Regions from separate parts of the Homo sapiens genome. Here all the other regions are linked to region 1. The links come from fine-mapping of genetic effects on gene expression. A gene starts in region 1. Each other region holds a variant in brackets. All regions are shown on one strand. Distances are from middle to middle.

Region 1 (2,764 bases):
CAAATGTGCTTAATCGGTTCTCTCAGGGGAATATGCATTCAGAGACATCAAGTCTGGGTACACCTGGGAAAGGGTACGGTTGGAGGGAGCTGTTCCTACAGAGATCTTCATGTACCAACACAGAGGCAACCACCTACTTTGCTTACCCTGAAAGGTGGTGTTGCTCCCACACTGAGTACCAATATGAAAGCATACAATACAGGTACAGTTATTTGTTATGCAGGCTGTCTTGGAACTAGATGATGTTTCAAATGGCACTTCCCAAATCTGCCAGAGCCTCTTACCCTCTTACGCCTGTTATGATTTCTAGAATGTGCTGAAATGATCCCCAAACAGCATCTCTGGCTAATTGAATCCTGGCTAACAAAGAGCTGACTAAAGTGCATTTATCAATTGCTTAAGAATTCTTTATACCCAAATGTGACCTTGTGTTATAACTATCTATCATTGGCTTTAGAAAGTGGCAGGGTCATGGATCCATAAAAAGCTGTTAAGAAAAAACCAGACCACTTGGAAAGGCTGTCCCAGATCTCTCCAGACCAGTATCCAGGGGCCAGAACTTCTCTGCCCCCCATCCAGTCCAACACTGAATTGCAGAACCACCCTGGGTATGACCCAGGAAGAGACTTCTTAGAAGGCTTTCATCAGATACCTATCTAGAGGCAAAGTGCAGGCTAGATGGGTATGGGCAAGAGAAGAGCAGAGACAGCATAACTGTGAAATCCACCCCCGACCTGACCACCCTACATAGTAACCCTGCCAGTTGGTTCTTGCCTACTCATCCTAATGCCACCCAAAGTCTCTTACCCCCAGAACGCTGATTTATTGGTTTTGAGTTCGTGTTAGTAGCTTAAACTGTCTCCTTGATTTCTCTGTATTTGTTTATTTGTTCGCTTGGTTACTTGCTGTCTCCCACCCCTACCCCGAAAAAACCTATCAGCTCTACACAGCCTTAAAGTGTAGTTGCTAAGTTCCTCTCCGTATCCTCAGTTTCCAGAACAGTGTGAGCTGGCATATAGTAGGCGCTTAATAAATACTCATTGAAGGAGTGAATGAATGGGGAAGCTTATTCCAAGGCCCTGAACATGGACTTCTGGCAAGGGAGCCTTCCAAACGCTGGCTTGGGCGATGCTGCTGGGATCCCAGCCACCAGATCTTTAATAAGCCTCTGACCCCTTCCCGAGGGTGGAAGGGCGAACCGAGCTTGGCCCCCACCCACTAGCCGGACCCAGAAAATAGAAGTCTAAACGGCAAATGCATCCAGGGCTCCAACTCTCCCAGCAACCTCCAAATGAGGCTGACGGCCTTGGACAGGCGACGGCCTTGGACAGGCCCCGCCCGGAGCCCCTCGGCGGCCGCCCCCCGCCCTCCCCCGCAGCCTGCAGTTCCCCCGGGCGGCGTGGACAGCCCCGGCCGGCCAGCTGAGCCCGTGTGGGCGGCGCGGGCAGGAGCCGCCCCACACGCGTCCCGCGACGCCCGCTCCAGATGCGCCGCTGCAGGGCCCGGCCGCCAGCCGAGTTGGCCGCGCGCGCCCGGGGGAGCGCAGAGTTTGGAAAGTCTTCGAGAAGCTTCAGAGGAGGGAAGGGGGTGGGAAGAGTGGGGGTGCAAGAGAGAAAAACCCGCCTCTTGCGAGTTGAGCGAGGAAGAGGGGGGGGAAGGCTCCGAGTTCCGCTTCCTGAACGGCGGGTGGATAGAGAAGGTTGGCGCGGGGAAGACCGGCGGGAGGCGCGCCCCGGGCCCGCGGCGCGATTGGCGTGACCGGCGATGGCCGGTGAGCGGACCCGCAGGTTCACCCGGAGCCTGTTGAGACCTGGGCAGGCGGCCGAGCTCCGGCACAGCGCCGCGTCCGCCGCCGCGGTGGCAGTCAGCAGCCGGCAGCAGCAGCGGGTGAGTGCGGCGCGTCCTCCGCGCCTTCCCGCGCGCCCCAGGCGCCCGGGGGGAACGGAGCCCAGCTTCCCCAAAAGCTCGGCGGGCCCAGGTCCCCGCAGCTCACGGGTCCTCTCCTCCGCACTCCCTCCCCCGCCGCCTCTGCGGGCTCCCCCGGCGCCACCTCAGCGAGGCAGCGCCACCGACGCGTAAGGACCGGGGGCGCGTTTGTGCACGCGGGACGCTCAGAGGAGCAGCTGCGTGGGTAGCAGAAGCGCAGCGTGGGAGAGGATGTGCAGGGGCTTTAATGGGGCGCGAGGGGGCCGGAATGCACCGCCAGTCACACTGGTGCTAAGTGATACGAGTGCCAGAGACCCCGGGTGGGGTGGGGGGATCTACAGAACAGAACCCCTGAGTCCGGAGGTCTGCGCGTCCCTCTCACCCTCCAGTAAACAGACCAGTGCGCTGAGAGAGAGGGATGCAGTCCGTGGTCCTCGCCCTGGTTAGAGCTGGGGCCCCCCGACGTTAACTATCGCAGAAATAGATGTACTTGGAACAGCCCTCCCACCGCAGGGTAAAAACCCACAAACCACTTAATACTCCTCCAGAAAGGGCTGAGGAACACAGGCTGGAGGAGACGTGGGTCATTAGGTCTCCAGCGGTTTCTGATATTTTTCTAAGATGTTTCGCGGGGTTCTCCCACCAGCAATGCTTTACTGGTTACTTCCTTATTGAAACGGCTTCTAAGTGCTGGGTGATTTCCGCGGGAAGTCCCTGGGGCAGCAGCCAGCATCTGATGCTAGGATCCTATCCATACCAACCCAGATGTTCCTGCGTTGCAGTAGGTCCACACTGCCGGGGAGAGGTGGCAAGAGACAAATCAACTCTAGTGGAAACG
Region 2 (2,500 bases), 150 kb after region 1:
AGAATTTCCCTTACTTTAACTAAAGAAAGTGGAAGTTAATACCAAGAAAGGGAAGAATCAGACTGCCACAAAGTAAGAAACTTTATGTATTCAAACTGAAAATCAGAAGTTCAAAAATATAACCCTTTCAGATATACCCCAGAACAATGAAGATGAGCACTGAACAGCAGAATTATTCTTTAAAATGATTTTACAAAGCTAAGCATTCCCCTCTAAAGACTACATGTATTTAGGTCAGTAATGGAAACAGACAATTTACTTGGGTCTTCCGAGGCTAATAGAAGTAAATCATTTTCATACCTCCTGGATTAGAAGAATTCTCCTATGTCTGCTACCAATTTAAATTGCTTATTTCTTTTTATGAGTTGCTGAGACTGCAAAATGAAAATTTGCAATTATAGAAAAGCAAAAAAAAAGGTGAAATTTATTCTTTAAATTTAAATGTGTATTATTGACTCTTAAGATTTTCACTTTTTTTATTTTTAAGCGAGGGTCCATAGGAAGATACTGAAGAAATAGATGACTTCAGGCTAGAATGGAAAATGTAAGCCTTTACACACTAGGAATAGAAATCAGCACTAACTTGGAGATCCCAGAAGAAAAAAGCAGCATAAAAATATATGATGCCACTGATTTCATTAATCCACTGGGTAAAATACAGAGATGTGTGACATATTAAAATTTTTTACCATGGTCGATTTGATAGAAAGAAGATGTAAGGAAGAAAAATTCATAAGAGTATAAATTGTGACTAAAGATCAAATAAAGTGTGACCAGCTTAGCTGGGCTGAAATAGAACAGTTTTTGTTTTTTTTTTAATAAAAGAGCATTTTTTTGAGTGTCTACAGTGAGCCAGAATGTGCTGGGTGTCATACATGCATTATCTCATTTAATACTCATAACCCTATGGAATAGGAACTGTTATCCTCATTTTATAGCAGAAACTCGGAAACTGAGAGGGAATTTACCCCAAAACTTACAGCTGATAACTGATGGGGCACTCAGGCATCCCACACTGGGTAATCCAGGTCATTTGGTCAGAGAAAAGAGAAATGAGGCTGCCTATAGTTATCACCAATGTCGGATGCAAACACCAAAGGGTAAGGTCTGGGATGAGCCCTTTATCTTGGTATCCCCGAGGCTCTTAGAGACCACGCAATGGTCCTGGGGGAAGAATTTTAAAGTCAATAGCCACAGGTGCTGATCTTTTCATGACCTTTAAAAGAGA[G/A]AAGTCATTGCATAGTAGCCCCACAGACATGTGACTGAGCTTGAAGATTGCTCTTTAAAGGCAGGAGGCTGTGCCTTGTGGCTTATTAAAAACCGGATTGGGAAATAAGAATCTTCAGTAGCCCTCAAGCCTCAGCAATGATCCAAGCACTGTCTGCCTTCCCTGCCCAAGGGCATTGGACAGGCCTCCCTCCCGCAGCCCTCCCTCCTGCACTGTTTCCAGCCCCTACAGCCTTCCTTCCTGGATGCTCCACACTTGGCCCCTCCTCAGAACCTGTACTCTTGCAGCTCCCTCTGCCAGGGGATTTTCTCCTAGGTCATCACACAACCAGCTGCTTCTCCTCCTCAATTTAAATGTTACCTCTCGAGAGAGGCCATCCTTGAAGAGTCTTTCTACACGTGGCCTTTGCCATTTCCACAAGGATCACTCATCGCTCTTCTCCTCTTTCTCCTCTTCGATTTTTTTCTTTTCTTTTCTTTTCTTTCTTTCTTTTTTTTTTTTTTTTTTTTTTTTTGAGACAGGGTCTCACTTCGTCCCCAGGCTGGAGTGCAGTGACACAATCTCAGCTCACCGCAACCTCCACCTCTCGGGTTCAAAGGATCCTCCTGCCTTAGCCTCCCAATTAGGTGGGATTACAGGTGTAGGCCACCATGCCTGGCTAATTTTTTTGTGTTTTTAGTGGAGACAGGGTTTCACTATGTTGGCCAGGCTGGTCTTTAACTCCTGACCTCAAGCGATCCACCAGCCTCGGCCTCCCAAAGTGCTGGGATTACAGCCGTGAGCTGCTACACCCAGCCTTGATTTTCTTAACAACCATTTTCACTCAGAGAAATTATCTTATTTCTGCTTAATTCATGATTGACTCTCTCCTCCCCTAGAATGCAAGCTTCCTCAGTTCAGGAACTTATTTTCTGATATGTGGTTGACATTATTGCAGCTCTTCTGGGAGCCAGGTAATATCTGGAAACTGGAATGTTGAATGGCAAAGGAGAATGGCCCCCAAGAATTAAGACAGTTCTCAATAATGCACTTTGAATTTGATCAAGCAAACTCAGAATTAAGAAAAACCACCAGTGAAGTGGCACGCTTACATTCACTACAACCCTAGCCCCAGATCTGACTTAAATTGACAGTCTCTGGTCTGCATAATTTTTAAAAGTGAAGATTAAGATCAGCATGGATGTGGCTAGGGACTACTGGGGTTGACTGAGTTTTGCTATTGACTTCGTTGGTATTCTTTGTCTCATATCTTCTGAGTTTTGCTATTGACTT
Region 3 (2,500 bases), 130 kb after region 1:
AGGAGGAGAGGGGGGCAATTAAAGTGATCTAGAAATAGGATGCAAACTTCCTAAGCAAAACTTCTATAACGAAGCTTTTATTTTAATATACACAAAGGGATCATATAAAGTTGGAAGAAAGCTCAGCATACTAATTAAAACCAAGCTCTTGGTTCAGTCTCTCTTAACAAAAGGAGATGAGGGAGCAAAGAATTGAGAACAATACAGTGGCTCAAGAGGGAACAAAGGTCTAGGGACCACTTCAGCTGAATGGCTGAGAGAAATACTGACAAAGTACTAAGGTAGCAAGTTACTCTGACAACAAAGCCCTCTCTGATTTCTGAAAACCAATGCTGCTGCGGGAGTAGAATAATGATAAGTGAGGAGACTTCATCCAAGTCTCATTTTGATCATGGCATAAAACTCTTGGGGACTTAGGAGGTATGATAACATTGAAAGAACAGAAGCAGGCTGGGTGCAATGGCTTATACCAGTAATCCCAGCACTTTGGGAAGCCAAGGCAAGAGGATCACTTGATCTCAGGAGTTCAAGACCAGCTTGGGCCATATAGTGAGACTCTATCTCTAAAAAAAACTTTTTAATTAGCTGGGCATGATGGTGTGCACCTGCAGTCCCAAATACTCAGGAGGCCGATGCAGGAGGATGGCTTGAGCTCAGGAATTTGAGACTGCATGACTGAGCCATGCGTATGCCACTGAGCTTCAGCCTGGGCAACAGAGTGAGACTCTGTCCGTAGAAAAATAAAAAAGAATAAAAGCAAATACTTATCTCTACAGCCACATCTACACATGTACACACACACACACACACACACACACACACACACACAAACGATGATGATTATGTACTGTCTTCATCCAAATAGTACTAGGCTACCGGGGCAAGGAAAAGTTCAGATTTTAAGCAAGGGGTTCAAACCAGAAATGAATTCTGGAAAGGAAAAAACAAAAATGAAAACAGGACCCAAGACTAAATGGTAAATACAAATATGATTTAAGGCGAAGTAAATGTTGTTGAAATCTCTAGCTGTCCATAAAAAATACACACACACACACACACATACACACACACACACACAACTCATTTAAATCAGGGCAGAAGCCAACTTTATGTAGGCACAGAACGTTCGGCAAGAGGCTAGGTCTGCACGATGTTCCTAAGTGT[C/T]TCACACACATAGAAACATACACACACACACACACACATTCAGAGTCTTTAATTAGCTAATATCCATCAAGACTGTCTTAGAAGGGGATATGAAATGAAACATTTCTAAAATGTATTTGACCATGTAGAAATTCTGTCCATTTTTCTCCAAGTATCTTTAAGAAACACCTTTGAGAAATGCTAATGTAAATGTGATCCAAGGAGATCACCAGAAACTAGAGGCACAATGTAGTTCAAGTAAAACAGAAATCAACAATTGGGTGAACCGGCATGTGCATTTCATTCAGGCTGATTCTAATGCAGAAAAAGAAAATATTAAACCCTCCAGGAGATCAGATAAATTAGTTGTTTTCTTTTCATGGCCAAACCTCTATTCTTTTTTTTTTTTTTTTTGAGGTGGAGTCTCGCTCTGTCGCCCAGGTTGGAGTGCAGTGGCGCAATCTCAGCTCTCTGCAAGCTCCGCCTCCCTGGTTCACACCATTCTCCTGCCTCAGCCTCCTGAGTAGCTGGGACTACAGGGGCCCGCCACCACACCCGGCTAATTTTTTTGTATTTTTAGTAGAGACAGGGTTTCACCATGTTAGCCAGGATGGTCTTGATCTCCTGACCTCGTGATCTGCCCGCCTCAGCCTCCCAAAGTGCTGAGATTACAGGCGTGAGCCACCGCGCCTGGCCCTCTATTCTTAATTCTTACTGTTAGCATCGAAAATGTCTACCTGTGTTCAGGGAGGTCATGCAATTCTAAGACACAATTCGGCACAAGCCCCAGTGATGGTAGTTCTATGTACTTACCCTCATACAGCAAATTATAAGTATAAATAATGTTACTCTCAGAGTTTGAAGTAATTAACAATGATCATAAATGTCAGTGTAATACTCTTTTAGCCCTTAAATTTCTCCCTTCATTCCCCTACCTAATTATCAGATTAGCCTTTCTCTTGTCCTAGGGGCAACTGTGAATCCGGTGGCATAAACGAGGTATATAAGACTCTGCTAATTGCAATTCAGTTAGGTGGAGCTAATTATCTTTACAAAGAGTGAAATTTACATAGAAATTTCTTGTCCCACTGATTTACTGTTACTACAGATCACATTGTGTTGAAATTATGTGATAAAGAGAATCAACCATTGGATGAAAGATTAGAGGAGGTTCATTATCCAACATGGGCTTAACCACTGGCTAAACACAGTCCCTGCCCTCAAGGTGCATACCATCAGGCAAGAAGTTACAGACCTCTGATTAGATTTCTACGACACACTCTGACAAGTACCCCCTGGAGTATACTACTTTAAGATAAACAAGGCCGGGTGCGGTGACTGACGCCTGTAATCCCAG
Region 4 (2,500 bases), 100 kb after region 1:
AAACTGAGCTGGGTTAGAATGTCAATTCTCCCATCAACTTGCAGCCAAGTTGTTGAAGTCTTCAAAATCCAAGCTTACTCATCTAAAAAAAAAAAAAAAGAGCAGTAATGTTCTTTTCCAGGGTTGATGTTGGTATTCAGTGAGAGAAGATATTAAATACTGATTATGGTCTTTGCCATTATGTATGATAGTGGTAGTAGAAAAATAATAACCATTATTGGCATTTACAGGGTAATTTATTTTAAAATGGTAGTGCATATTGTTACCATTATTATCAATTATTTGGTGTGACTGTTATTTCTACAAGAAAACACATATGAATTAGTTTTACTATAATAAATAAATACAGTAAATGTGACTTGTAAGATGAAAATGGGGGGAGGAAGAAAGGTGAAACCCCTATAATATACAACAGATGAGACATACCTAAATCATTGCTAGCTTAGGTGTGTCTGATCTGTTGTATATTGCAGGGGTTTGCCGGAACTTCCCACACAACCAGGCACCTCCTACAGAGAGCAAAATTATAGTATGTGACTATCGTCACTGAAGGTAAACGGGGTCTTAAACTCATTTTTTGGCTTCCAGATATTCTGCTGTCATAGGAGAGTGATGGGTTGAATGGGTAAGGCTTAATGGAAAATTAGAGATCAGGGCTGCACTGAATGTATTTCCCTGGAGAACCAGGAAGGTTCTTAAGCCCCCATTTTCAGGATGCTTGATACCTGGTGTACTTTTCACAGAATGAGACAATCTTGGGTTGCACTGGTAATTCAGGAGTTTACCAAACCTAAATTCCCACACCTCAAAGACAGAAGTCATTAGCTAAAAGAGGTCCTCCTTTAAGACCATTCAAATCCAAATAAACATAAAAATTGAGGAAATAGTAGTCCCTTATTCTAGGCACTATTCCTTGTATTATATCTCATTAGATTCCTATAGTTGCAAGCATTGGAAACCTACTCCAATGAACAAACACAGTCCAGAGAAGGGGACAGAAGGAAGAGTGGAGAGATGGGCTCAGAAAAGAA[C/T]GAGGAATGGACTTAGAGAAGCTCAGAACAGTGGGAAATGGGTGGTTTTGATGATTCAAACTAATGGAAAGTCTTGTGGGAGTGTAGCCCCAGAAATGAAACAATTCCAATCCTTTCATCAACATTTGCATCCTTCCACTCAAGATTCAGAGTTCGGCAGGAAAGCGTTGAATGGGTCTTGCTGGGGTCACACACCCATGATGCCAGAAAATCAGGACGCTTTCATTAGTCAAATCCACCAAGGCTGCTTCTTATGGGAATGTGGAAAGAAGTAAGTCCCCAAAAGGAAATTAAAATGCTAGTACTAAAAGAAAGTAGGATGAGTGCCACATAGGCCAAAAGACAACAAATATCCACTATGCATATTCAACTTCAAGTAGCCACAGGTAGGAAAGGAAATAAAAGAATGGTCTGTCATTATGGGAAGACATATTGAAATTATAAAATGCCTATTGTTGACAAAACTATTTACATTTGTATGTGTGACATGTATGTGCGTGTACAACACTTGACCTGTGAGTGAATGTTTTTGTGATTATTAAAAATAATAAGATAGTATCTGAGGTTAAGCTGGTGACAGCTCTCATCACAGGCTTCATATAAATTAATCTAAAATTCTCCAGTTTACTCTAAGGCATTAATTTCCCTTGTGTCAGGCAGCCTTGTAATTGGGTTGTGATGTATTTTTAATGATATTTATTATCATTCAAGTGTTTCTAGAAAACTAAATGAGACATGTAATTTAGTTTGATTTAGATCTTCTTGGATATTTTCTACTTCTTTACAAATACAGAGAAGCAGCCACTTTTAAATTTTATTTTTATTTGCTATACAAAAATGTGTGAATTTTAACATGCTCATAAGAGATATACATGGTCAGATTTCTTTAAAAAGAAAATAAGACTTCAAAGATCCAAATTTAGTTTGAAAGTGCACCTTACATCACAAATCCTATAAAGCTCCTTTGTGTCCTTGCTTTCCCTAAAGAAATTAAGGGTTAACAAAATAGAAAATTCTGATTTTTCTAACGATAATGTGTGTGTTGAATGTAACAATACAGTCATCCCTTATATCTGCAAAACATTTTATGCTTTACCGACTTTCACCTGCTTTATGTCACTGAAATGGACTAAGACATTCAAAGAGTTACTGCTGATTGATTTCTTGTGAGATCTGTGTCCGTCTTTGTTACCAAGGGAGCCATTTCCAAATTCAGCTTAATCTGAGTTTGCCCAGCTGCACAGTTGTTAACTTTGATTTGGCTGGTGTTTTTCCATTCTCATGAAACTGTGTGGTTCAAGACAGACAGAAGGTTAAAGGGTTAGTGTAAGATGGCTTATTCTTTACTTAATCACTTCCTTTTTGGTAGGAAAAAGTAGCCTTGTTTTCAGAAGCTCAAACATTTGAGAGGTTCTCCAGGGGAACTCCCTCTGATGAAAGGCTAAATTAAATCTGTTACATGACCCAGG

The links. PIP is the estimated chance that this variant, and not a neighbour inherited with it, causes the effect. A credible set is the group of variants that fine-mapping cannot tell apart.
Region 2: its variant is the best candidate, but not a certain one, in a credible set for the expression of DOCK10 in whole blood (TOPMed, PIP 0.85).
Region 3: its variant is the best candidate, but not a certain one, in a credible set for the expression of DOCK10 in lung (TOPMed, PIP 0.63).
Region 4: its variant is the best candidate, but not a certain one, in a credible set for the expression of DOCK10 in whole blood (INTERVAL, PIP 0.79).

Annotation. Positions count from the first base shown.
Region 1 is chr2:225,041,375-225,044,138 of GRCh38, reverse strand. DOCK10 (dedicator of cytokinesis 10) reads left to right here and starts at 1,671. Exons shown (of 56, transcript NM_014689.3): 1 at 1,671-1,887. The coding sequence starts at 1,765. RefSeq lists silencers at 1,275-1,644, 1,835-2,074 and an enhancer at 2,625-2,764.
Region 2 is chr2:224,891,640-224,894,139 of GRCh38, reverse strand. The region is part of intron 4 of DOCK10 (dedicator of cytokinesis 10); the gene reads left to right. Among named protein-coding and RNA genes, the nearest start is that of MIR4439, 120 kb to the left of the region's middle. RefSeq lists an enhancer at 904-1,530. The variant G/A (reference allele first, on the strand shown) is at 1,229.
Region 3 is chr2:224,906,745-224,909,244 of GRCh38, reverse strand. All of the region lies in intron 3 of DOCK10 (dedicator of cytokinesis 10), which reads left to right. Among named protein-coding and RNA genes, the nearest start is that of MIR4439, 100 kb to the left of the region's middle. The variant C/T (reference allele first, on the strand shown) is at 1,165.
Region 4 is chr2:224,938,797-224,941,296 of GRCh38, reverse strand. The region is part of intron 1 of DOCK10 (dedicator of cytokinesis 10); the gene reads left to right. LOC124906121 (a long non-coding RNA gene) reads right to left here. Exons shown (of 3, transcript XR_007088106.1): 3 at 13-82. Among named protein-coding and RNA genes, the nearest start is that of MIR4439, 70 kb to the left of the region's middle. The variant C/T (reference allele first, on the strand shown) is at 1,032.